Linked DNA regions of Homo sapiens. The protein of the gene in region 2 purifies or fractionates together with the protein of the main gene of each other region. This does not show direct contact. Each region holds a gene or a part of one and is shown on either strand. Other genes may lie near its edges. The genes, in order: NSA2, CAMKK1 and NTHL1.

The links.
Region 1: the proteins of CAMKK1 (region 2) and NSA2 purify together in Homo sapiens (affinity purification with mass spectrometry; one large-scale study listed by BioGRID and IntAct). This does not show direct contact.
Region 3: the proteins of CAMKK1 (region 2) and NTHL1 purify together in Homo sapiens (affinity purification with mass spectrometry; one large-scale study listed by BioGRID and IntAct). This does not show direct contact.

Annotation. Positions count from the first base shown.
Region 1 is NC_000005.10:74,773,617-74,777,267, forward strand, and holds part of NSA2 (ribosome biogenesis protein NSA2 homolog), read left to right. Parts: intron 1-251; coding exon 252-444; intron 445-2,987; coding exon 2,988-3,055; 3' UTR 3,056-3,651. UniProt on the Homo sapiens protein: Involved in the biogenesis of the 60S ribosomal subunit. May play a part in the quality control of pre-60S particles.
Region 2 is NC_000017.11:3,872,403-3,876,053, reverse strand, and holds part of CAMKK1 (calcium/calmodulin-dependent protein kinase kinase 1), read left to right. Parts: intron 1-2,591; coding exon 2,592-2,645; intron 2,646-3,426; coding exon 3,427-3,500; intron 3,501-3,651. UniProt on the Homo sapiens protein: Calcium/calmodulin-dependent protein kinase that belongs to a proposed calcium-triggered signaling cascade involved in a number of cellular processes. Phosphorylates CAMK1, CAMK1D, CAMK1G and CAMK4. Involved in regulating cell apoptosis.
Region 3 is NC_000016.10:2,041,927-2,044,834, reverse strand, and holds part of NTHL1 (endonuclease III-like protein 1), read left to right. Parts: intron 1-34; coding exon 35-205; intron 206-1,108; coding exon 1,109-1,268; intron 1,269-2,908. UniProt on the Homo sapiens protein: Bifunctional DNA N-glycosylase with associated apurinic/apyrimidinic (AP) lyase function that catalyzes the first step in base excision repair (BER), the primary repair pathway for the repair of oxidative DNA damage.

The DNA.
Region 1 (3,651 bases), on a different chromosome or scaffold from region 2:
GCAACTGGGCAAGACCCTGTCTCAAAAGAAAAAGAAATTCTTAAGTATTTGTGTGGGTGTTTTCCCCACATATTTATACTGTAACCATCAGCTTTTTACTCTGTAAAACATATTTTGTTAGCTTCTTTAAGATGACATTATTCAACCATAGTTTTTTGGAGATGGTTGAAAAAGATAAGCGAAAACGACCACTACTCATCACTGTTAACATTTTGGACGTAAACATTCTTATGTTGTGTTTGACTTACTAGGGCTTGCGTTTCAAGAAAGCCCATGTAACACATCCTGAACTGAAAGCCACCTTTTGCCTACCAATACTTGGTGTAAAGAAGAATCCCTCATCCCCACTGTATACAACTTTGGGTGTTATTACCAAAGGTACTGTCATTGAAGTAAATGTGAGCGAATTGGGCCTTGTGACACAAGGAGGCAAAGTTATTTGGGGTAAGTGAATTTTTGAATACAGGGCTGCTGTGTTCTGCAGTACTAATAGAAATACTATTCAAGTTGATGTATTAATAAAATATACAGCAAATTTTTTTAATGCAGTAGAGCTAAAACACTGTAAATCAGATGTAAATATTTAGTAAAAAATACTTTATAGAAAAAGTTGTTATAAATACAATTGTTTTAAAATTTAGCTTACTGGTTTTAGTTACATAAGGTGTAATACATTCTGCTAGATTTATTTTTATCCTTTTTAGCCAGGCACAGCAGCTCACGCATGTAAATCCCAGCACTTTGGGAGGCTGAGGCGGGTGGATCACCTGAAGTCAGGAGTTTGAGACCAGCCTGGCCAACATGGCAAAACCCCACCTCTACTAAAAATACAAAAAAATCAGCCGGGTGTGGTGGCGAGCACCTCTAATCCCAGCCACTTGGGAGGCTGAGGCAGGAGAATCACTTGAACTCAGGAGGCGGAGCTTGCAGTGAGCTGAGATTGTGCCACTGCACTCCAGACTGGGAGACAGAGCAAATCTCCATCTCAAAAAAAATTTTTTTAACCTTTTTAATAAAAATTATTATAAGGGAAGCAGATGCAAAGTTATAACTAAGAAATATTATAAGAAAATAGAATAAATTAACCATGAGCAGAGGAAGGGAGGCATATATCAAACATATTTTAAAAGTGAGGTCAGCTTACATGAAGTATTAGCCAATGACTAAAGATGTCTTCCGTAAGAAAAAATTTCTTTTGCCACAACTTTATATTATGTAAATACTTCTTATATTTACATGCTAACATTAAGAGAAAATACCTATTACATTTAAAGAAATAGAACTATCTGTCCCACGTAGGTAAACTGATCATTGAAACTGCCAGGAGCGGTGGCTCAGCCTGTAATCCCAGCACTTTGGGAGGCTGAGGCGGACAGATCATCTGCAGTCAGGAGTTCAAGACCAGCCTGGCCAACATGGTGAAACCCCATCTCTACTAAAAATACACAAATTAGCCAGGTGTTGTGGCCCACACCTGTAATCCCAGCTGCTCCGGTGGCTGAGGCAGGAGAATCGCTTGAACCTGGGAGGTGGAGCTTGCAGTGAGCTGAGATCGTGCCATTGCACTCCAGCCTGGATGACAGAGCGAGACTCTGTCTCAAAAAGTAATAATAATAATTGAAAGTGATTTAACACAGTTTAGTTCGTTCTGTTAATTCCCATTAACAGGTCTCAGAAATCATGTAGAAGCTTCCAGGCTTTAAAAAGCCCCCTCGCTATCTGGGCGCAGTGGCTGACACCTATAATCCCAGCACTTGGGGAGGCCGAGGCAGGCGGTTCACTTGAGACTGGAGTTGGAGACCAGCCTGGCCAACATGACAAAACGCCGTCTCTACTAAAAATACAAAACAATTAGCCAGGTGTGGTTGTGGGTGCCTGTAATTCCAGCTACTCGGGAGGCTGAGGCAGGAGAATCACATGAACCTGGAGCTTGCAGTGAGCTGAGATCATGCCACTGCACTCCGGCCTGGGAGACAGAGCAAGCCTCCATCTCAAAAATAAGTAAAATAAAAATATTTTGATCTTTTTTAATAAAAATTCTTTATTACAAGGGAAGCAGATGCAAAGTTATAACTAAAAAAAATTGTAAAAAAAAAATAGAATAAATTAACCATGAGCCGAGGGAGGCATACAACATATAATCACACTAGATCAGTAATAATTAAAACAGAAATGTGTCATGCAGTAATTTTAAACGCCCTCATTTGCTTAGTTTTCTACCTTTAGTACCCAGATCCAATTTCTTTGAAAGGGAAGAATACACGCTACAACTTCTTCAGTCATTGGTTTATACTTCATGTCAGCTGACCTCAGTTTTAAAATATGTTGTTACCTTGACTTGAAACTCATTTGAAACTTGATACATTTTCCAGGAAGAATTATGTGAAAAAGTGACAATGCTCAGGTCAATCCACAAAAGCCTGTTAATGCAATGTACTAATAACATGGAGCTGGCCATTATTTGCAAAAACACTATTTGTATGAAAATTGTATTCAGAACTCAAATTTGTCCTTAAATGATTGAATTTTGTAAAATCTCATTTATCCTTTATGGTTCATTTCTTATTTATTGAAAGTGGTAATTAGAAATATTTTAGGCATGGCTGGGCGCAGTGGCTCACACCTATAATCACAGCACTTTGGGAGGCCAAGGCAGGCGGATCATTTGAGCTCAGGAGTTCGAGCCCAGCCTGGGCAACATGGCAAAACCACATCTCTACAAAATACAAAAACAAAAAAATTAGCCAGGCAGTGGCGTGTGCCTGTGGTCCCAGCTACCCGGAAGACTGAGTGAGGAGAATCGCTTGAGCCCAGGAGGCAGAGGTTGCAGTGAGCCAGATCACGCCACCACACTGCAGCCTGGGGAATAAGAGTGAAACCCTGTATTAAGACAAAAAGAAAAAAAAGGCAAAAGTTATATTCTTTAAAATTAATTTTTATTAGCTAACAACCCTCCCTTTTCCCTTTTTTGGTTTTGTTTTCCTTAGGAAAATATGCCCAGGTTACCAACAATCCTGAAAATGATGGATGTATAAATGCAGTCTTACTGGTTTGACAGCAATTTCATATATAATTATTGAGGACTACACACCAATTGAAGAAACTGCCATTACTGTGATGTTTCTGAATACTACCAAACAGCCATACATGTCTGCAATGAAGAGATTTATTAAATTGTAAACATTAAAGTGGTCCAGTTTTATAAATGGTCTTTATTTTGAAATACGCTTTGACCCCATGTTCATAAAACTGAATGATTGAAAAAAAGCAAATATACAAATATCCTACTTCATCAATATCTGCATTTGTGAGTGGGTATTCAGCAATTTCCTGAAAAAACCACCAGTGTTCATTGAAAATGCCTTTCAAAAAGGTTAATACACAATTATGTGTCTGAGAATTTAACTGAAGTATCTTCAAAATCTCGTTAATCATTAATCCTAAAAAAGGTAGGTAGCATTAATACAGATGTTAAGTTTATAGTGTTTGTTTACACTAGAAGTATGTGAGAAGACACTAAAAGTTCAGAAATCTTAGAGAAATCTTTTCACCTGTGAAATCCAGTACAGCAAAGGTCTAGTGAATTCACATTCTAAACATTTTTTTCATCTCATTTACCATGTATAATAATACCTACTTGGCACTATTTTC
Region 2 (3,651 bases):
TTCCAGCAAAGTGGTCCCAAATCTCCCTTGCAGATATTTACTGTTGGTTGCTCTGTGCTGGGTTCTGGACTGGACTGTGGAAGAGGCAGAAACAAAGAGAACCCTGTTTCCTGCCCTCTGGATGGTTTCGGGGGAAGTTGGGGGTCCCCGCAGATCTTGGGACATGGCAGGATTTGAACTGGCCCTTGAAGAATGGGGAGGATCTGAGCAGGACCTGGAGCCTAGAGAATAAACCAGAGAACAGAAGGGCTCAGGGTGGGGGGCAGAGGGTATAAAGGGCCTGGAAGTTTGGGCTTTCTCCTAAGTGACAGGAGCGTAGGCAAAGTTGTCTGAACAAGAGGTTACACGGTCTGGCGCAGTTCCCTGGGCACATGGCTGTTTCACCTATGGAGTGCCAGCCACCCCACTGCCAGGGAGGCTGTGGGTGAGAGGCATTTGGACACGTGTGAGTATCCAGGAAAGAGGTCAGGAGGCCGGGCACAGTGGCTCATGCCTGTAATCCCAGTGCTTTGGGAGGCCAAGGTGGATCTCTTAAGGCTAGGAATTTGAGATGAGCCTGGGCAACATAGCAAGACCCCATTTCTACAAAAAAAAAAATAAAAACATTAGACAGGTGTGGTAGTGCACACCTGTAGTCCCAGCTACTTGGGAGGCCGAGGTGGGAGGATCGCTTGAGTCCAGGAGTTGGGGGCTGTAGTGAGCTGTGATGGTGTCTAGCCTGAGTGACTGAGCGACACCTTGTCTCGAAGAAAGAAAGAAAGACGTTGGGGATGTTGATAAAGATTTTTTGAAATGTTTTATTTTGATATAATTCTAAATTTACAGAAAAGTTGGAAGAATAGTACAAAGAAATCCCCTATATCTTTTTACCCAGATTCACCAATTATTGACATTTTGTCCCACTGGCTTTTTCATCATCTTTCTTTTTTTTTGAGCCGGAGTCTCGCTCTGTCGCCCAGGCTGGAGTGCAGTGGCGCGATCTCAGCTCACTGCAAGCTCCACCTCCTGGGTTCACGCCATTCTCCTGCCTCAACCTCCCGAGTAGCTGGGACTACAGGCGCCCACCACCACGCCCGGCTAATTTTTTGTATTTTTTAGTAGAGACGGGGTTTCACCGTGTTAGCCAGGATGGTCTGGATCTCCTGACCTCGTGATCCGCCCGCCTCGGCCTCCCAAAGTGCTGGGATTACAGGTGTGAGCCACCACGCCCAGCCAGAAATTAATCATTGATAAGACTTATATATCGGTCAGGCATGGTGGCTCATGCCTGTAATTCCAGCCCTTTGGGAGGCCAAGGTAGGTGGATCACCTGAGGTCAGGAGTTTGAGACCAGCCTGGCCAACGTGGTGAAACCCCGTCTCTACTAAAAAATACAAAAATTAGCCGGGCATGGTGGCGGGCACCTGTAATTCCAGCTACTTGGGAGGCCGAGGCAGGTGGATCACCTGAGGTCAGGAGTTTGAGACCAGCCTGGCCAACGTGGTGAAACCCCGTCTCTACTAAAAAATACAAAAATTAGCCGGGCATGGTGGCAGGCACCTGTAATTCCAGCTACTTGGGAGGCTGAGGCAGAAGAATCGTTCGAACCCAGGAGGCAGAGGTTGCAGTGAGCTAAGATCGTGCTATTGCACTCTAGCCTGGGCGACAGAGTGAGACTCTGTCTGAAAAAAAAAAGACATACATAATCCACAGACCTTATTTAAATGTTATCAGTTGTCCTGATACTGTACTTCATAACTTCTTCTTTTTCTGGTCCCGGAATCCAATCGAGGACCACTTGCTGCATTCACCTTCTTGTCTGTGGTATCCTTTCATCTGGAAGAGGGCCTTGGCCTGCCGTTGTCTTTCCTGATCTTGACATTTTGGAAGACAACCAGCCTGTTATTTTGTAGAATGTTGTCAGTTTGCATTTGTCTGGTGTTCCCTGGTTGGATTCAGATGATGCATCTGGGGCAGGAATATGTAGGTAGAGATCGAGAATCACTCATATAAGCGAGAAAGTGGATACCAGAAGAGGTGGCGTTCCGGAGCAGAAGGTAGAGAGAGCACACGCTGGAGTCCAGGGCGCGGGGAGGCCCAGGGGTGTTTGGGAGCCCAGAGGAGTTGTTGCAGTGGCGGTGGATGAGGGCGTGAGAGGACAGGGCCTCTGTGTGGGCAGGGGCTGTTTGCAATATCAGGAAGAAGGTGGATTATGAGGAGAAGGGATGACTCCTTGAAGCCCGAGCTGGTTTAGTGAGCAGAAGTTCCATATATACCATCATTCCTGGGGTGCGTCTGTGGCACGGGAGCGGCCCGTGTGACCCTCTGGATGAAGGAGGTTTTGTACCTGTTGAGTTGGAAACGTACCTGGTTAGAGTCTTTCCCAAGGAAATCCAGAACCCCTGGAGGGTGGAGGCCTTGTTCTGGCCGCCCCTGTGTCCTCAGCACTCAGCACGGGGCCCAGCATCGGGCAAGTACCGCGGAGTGTTTGTCGAGTGAGTGCATGACAGAGGAAAGAGGTTCCCTGCAGGCCTCTCCTGCAGCCCGCTGGAGCTGGGTGGGCAGAGGTGGCTGTGCCTGTTGGGGACTGATGTGAGCATGTTTCTTTCCAGGCCTTGGATGTATGGGCCACTGGCGTCACGTTGTACTGCTTTGTCTATGGGAAGGTGAGTGCCAGGGATGCCAGCAGAGCTGGGGCGGGTCCAGTGAGGCGGGCACGGGCGACGGATGCAGGCTCTTCCTTTTTGTCCTTAAGTGGCTTTTGAAAGAGCCCACCTGGCTCAGAGAAGGCTGAGAGAGAAGAGGCTTTTTCTATCTTTCTCTGGTCCCCTGCGGAGCGATTCTCGCGAAGGAGTCGCAGGACAGCAGACACCTAAGGGGAGGTGCCGACGATGGTGTTGCCACCGCCCCAGCCAGAGTGCTCCCCGTCCCTCTGTCCCTTGACGCCATTCACTTATTGAGCCATGTGTTCACTCCCTTGCTCATTTATTCGACAAATTGTCCTTCACCCCTACCCTGGCTGAGGCTGGACCCTGGGGACACCCAACGCTGACGTATCGGTGATCCCTGCCCGCAGGTGTGCCTGCTCTGGTGACCACACTAAGGGGCAGGGGGGAATTTCAGTGAACATGTTCCCAAGCCCCAGGCCCTGGGAGTGGAGGCCTGGCCACAGGTGGCGGTAATGGTGGTGGGTGCACCCAGCCTGGCCTGGCCTGGCCGCGGGTGGCAGTAACGGCGGTGGATGCACCCAGCCTCATTGTTCCCTCAGCAACTCATTCATTCAGTCAACATTTGTTGAACATTTACAGTGTGAGTTGAGGTCCTTCTCATGTAATGGGAGCCCAGACCTGCCCCCTACCCCTGCCCCCACCAAGGGAGGGGGGTTGATCCCCTGGCACAGGTCGAGGCCCTGGACCCACATCCTTTGTCTGCCTCTCCACCCCACAGTGCCCATTCATCGACGATTTCATCCTGGCCCTCCACAGGAAGATCAAGAATGAGCCCGTGGTGTTTCCTGAGGAGTGAGTTGTCCACCCAGGGGAACAAGGGGGCTACCACCCGCTCCTGGTGTCTGAGTTTTAGCAGAGCTTTTGCCCTCTGAGGACCCCACCCCAGCCTGCAGATATGAAGGTGGCGGTGCTGTTCCCTGGGAGGGACCCCTGAATAGATGGA
Region 3 (2,908 bases), on a different chromosome or scaffold from region 2:
GCCGCCACCCCGGTCCCTGTCACTGCACAAGCAGGTACGCAGGTACCAGGTGCTGCTGTCACTGATGCTCTCCAGCCAAACCAAAGACCAGGTGACGGCGGGCGCCATGCAGCGACTGCGGGCGCGGGGCCTGACGGTGGACAGCATCCTGCAGACAGATGATGCCACGCTGGGCAAGCTCATCTACCCCGTCGGTTTCTGGAGGGTGAGCCCTGCCTGTGGCAACGGGGGCCGGGTGGCAGTGGCCTGAGAGAGACCTCAGAAGGCTGAGGGGGGTGGCGACGGTGCAGGAAGTGAGGGTCAAGCATCTCAGGCTCGGGGGGTCCCCCTGAAGCCCCCCCCAGGCCGTGGGGCCCTGAGGCCTGACGCCCAGTCCCAGCAGCTCCTTGGCCTTCCTGTTCGCATCCTCCCTTCCTTCCTCTGCTTCCCCGCCTCGCCGCCTGCCCACCCTTCCTCACCGCCAAGGCTGCCTGCCCACCCGCCTTTCCCTTTGTTTACTGCTAGCCTCTCCCGGTGTGTCACCCCCTCCTGTCCAGAGCCCCTCACCCTCCAGGAGCCCTGGGGAGGCTGCTCCCCAACCCCGCCGAGCACTGGATGGTGGTGGGCGGATCTGTTGAAAGCAGCTTGGTGGGTGGGGCCGCTTCCCCTTGGCACCCGCGTGGGCCGCAGTTTCTCAGATGGGTTTTAAATAGCCCTCTCCACTCAGGCACAGGATGGGAACCACCCGGCAGGCCTGGCAGCTGGTGGGGAAGCCCCAGCTCCAGCCCTCCTTCCTGAAGGCGCAGGTGCAGCCAAGCCCCACTCCTGGGAGCGGCTGGCCTGCTTGGCCTGGCCTGGGTGCTGGCAGGGAATGACGGGCAGGGGAACCCCAGCCAGAGCCTACACGTGCATCATTGGCCCACACGGGTGGGAGGAGGGGGTCAGGCCTACCTTGGGCCTCCCTGCTGCCCTCCGCTTGTTCCCGCCTCCTGGGGGGCGGGGGCTGAGCTTGCACACGTCCTCAGCAGGTGCAGGTAGCTCTGGCCACCTGTGGGTCTCCTGGGGGCTGCATCCTCCCAGGTTGGGCTGTGCCCTTGCCTCCAAGGCTGAACCCACCCCTGTCTTTCAGAGCAAGGTGAAATACATCAAGCAGACCAGCGCCATCCTGCAGCAGCACTACGGTGGGGACATCCCAGCCTCTGTGGCCGAGCTGGTGGCGCTGCCGGGTGTTGGGCCCAAGATGGCACACCTGGCTATGGCTGTGGCCTGGGGCACTGTGTCAGGCATTGGTGAGTAGAGGAGGGCGGGGCTGGCTCCAGCCCACTGGCTGCTCTTGGGATTCCCCACATCCTTGTGACCTGTGACTCCACTTCCAGCATGCTGGTCCTCCACCCAGCCCATAGAGTCAGAAAGGTGCTCCCAGGGTGGAGCCAGGCCAGCCCCACTCAGAGACAGGTGCTGGGGCAGGAGGTCACATGGGCTGAGCACCTGCTCCGTGCAGGGCTCTGAGAGAGGCCCCGGAGCTGGACTCCATCTGCGTTGTATTCGGGAGAAATGTGGAGCGAGGAATTCCCCACTCGTGGAGTGGAAACCCTGATGGTTGTGCAGGGTGCTCTTGGGGCCTGGCTTGGGCCCAGGGCCTCTGGGAAGGCCCCCAAGGTCATCCTTCACCTGAGAGCTGCAGAGCAAGGTGGGGTGAGCCAGGCCAAGAGGAGGAAGTGTGTTCCCAGCAGAAGGAACAGCATCTGTAAAACCATGATGCGAGAGAGAGGGCCAGGAGCAGGAAGTTCTGGAATGAGATGAGGGCAGAGTGGGGAGGTAAGGACTGAGGAGGGAGGAGGAAGAGTATCCCCTCAGCAGGTGGGGTGGGGAGGGAGGTGCTGGGGGGAGAAAGGGGGAGGGTGGGGAGGGAGGCTCTGCGGGGACAGGAGGGGAATGGTAGGGAGGGAGGCGCTGGGGGAATGGGGGAGGAGGGTGGGGAGGGAGGCGCTGGGAGGATGGGGGGAGGGTGGAGAGGGAGGTGCTGCGGGGAGAAGAGGGGAGGGTTGAGAGGGAGAAGAGGGGAGGGTGGGGAGGGAGGCACTGGGGGGAGGGCCCTCCTTGAATCCTTTTCCCAGGTCCTGGTGTCTCTTCCTAGCACCGGAGGCTTCTTGGCAGTTGGGTGCAGACAGACCCCTGGGTTTGGGGTGGGGCTGCCTCCTCCTCGGCTTTGTCCAGAGGATTTGGGGCTCCTAAGGCCACACGCAGCCGGGCCCAGCCAGTCCAGAAACCAGGGCTTGGCCCTGCCCTCTGTGTGCCCCCATCCCAGGCCCCTTTGGGACTCCTGCAGGGGGCCTGTGCCGGAGGCGGGGGGCTTGCAGCACTTTCTGGTGGGCAAGAGGGCCACCAAGGGCCGGGGGCCTCTATTCTGAGCCGGGGCCACCTGGTGAGGCTGAACAGCCACAGCAGCCCCAAAGAGCCAGAGCCAGGCCAGGTGCGCCGGGGCAGGGCCTCCTCCCGACTGAGACTCCCAGCGTCACCACCTGCCAGCCTCTCAGTGGACACTTGAGCTTATCTGGGCGGCTGTCCTCAGCTGCCCGTGTCCCTGGGGTGCTGCATCGTGGTTGGGCAGGGCTGTGGGGGAAGGTCCCTGCCCGCAGCCAGGCAGGGAACGGGCTTTGGGAGCAGCGGGCACAAGAGACAGCCATGTGGAAATACCTCCCTCTCCAGGTGTCTGTGGGCCTGACCACCTGCAAGGAGACCCCAGGGCTGCCTCCTAGGGGTTCCCCGAAAGAGAAACGCTCTCAGTTAAAATGTCAGAGCTGGCTGGGTACAAGGGCTCAAGCCTGTAATCCCAGCACTTTGGAAGGCCGAGGTATGTGGATCACCTGAGGTCAGGAGTTCAAGATCAGCCTGGCCAACGTGGTGAAACCCGCTCTCTACTAAAAAT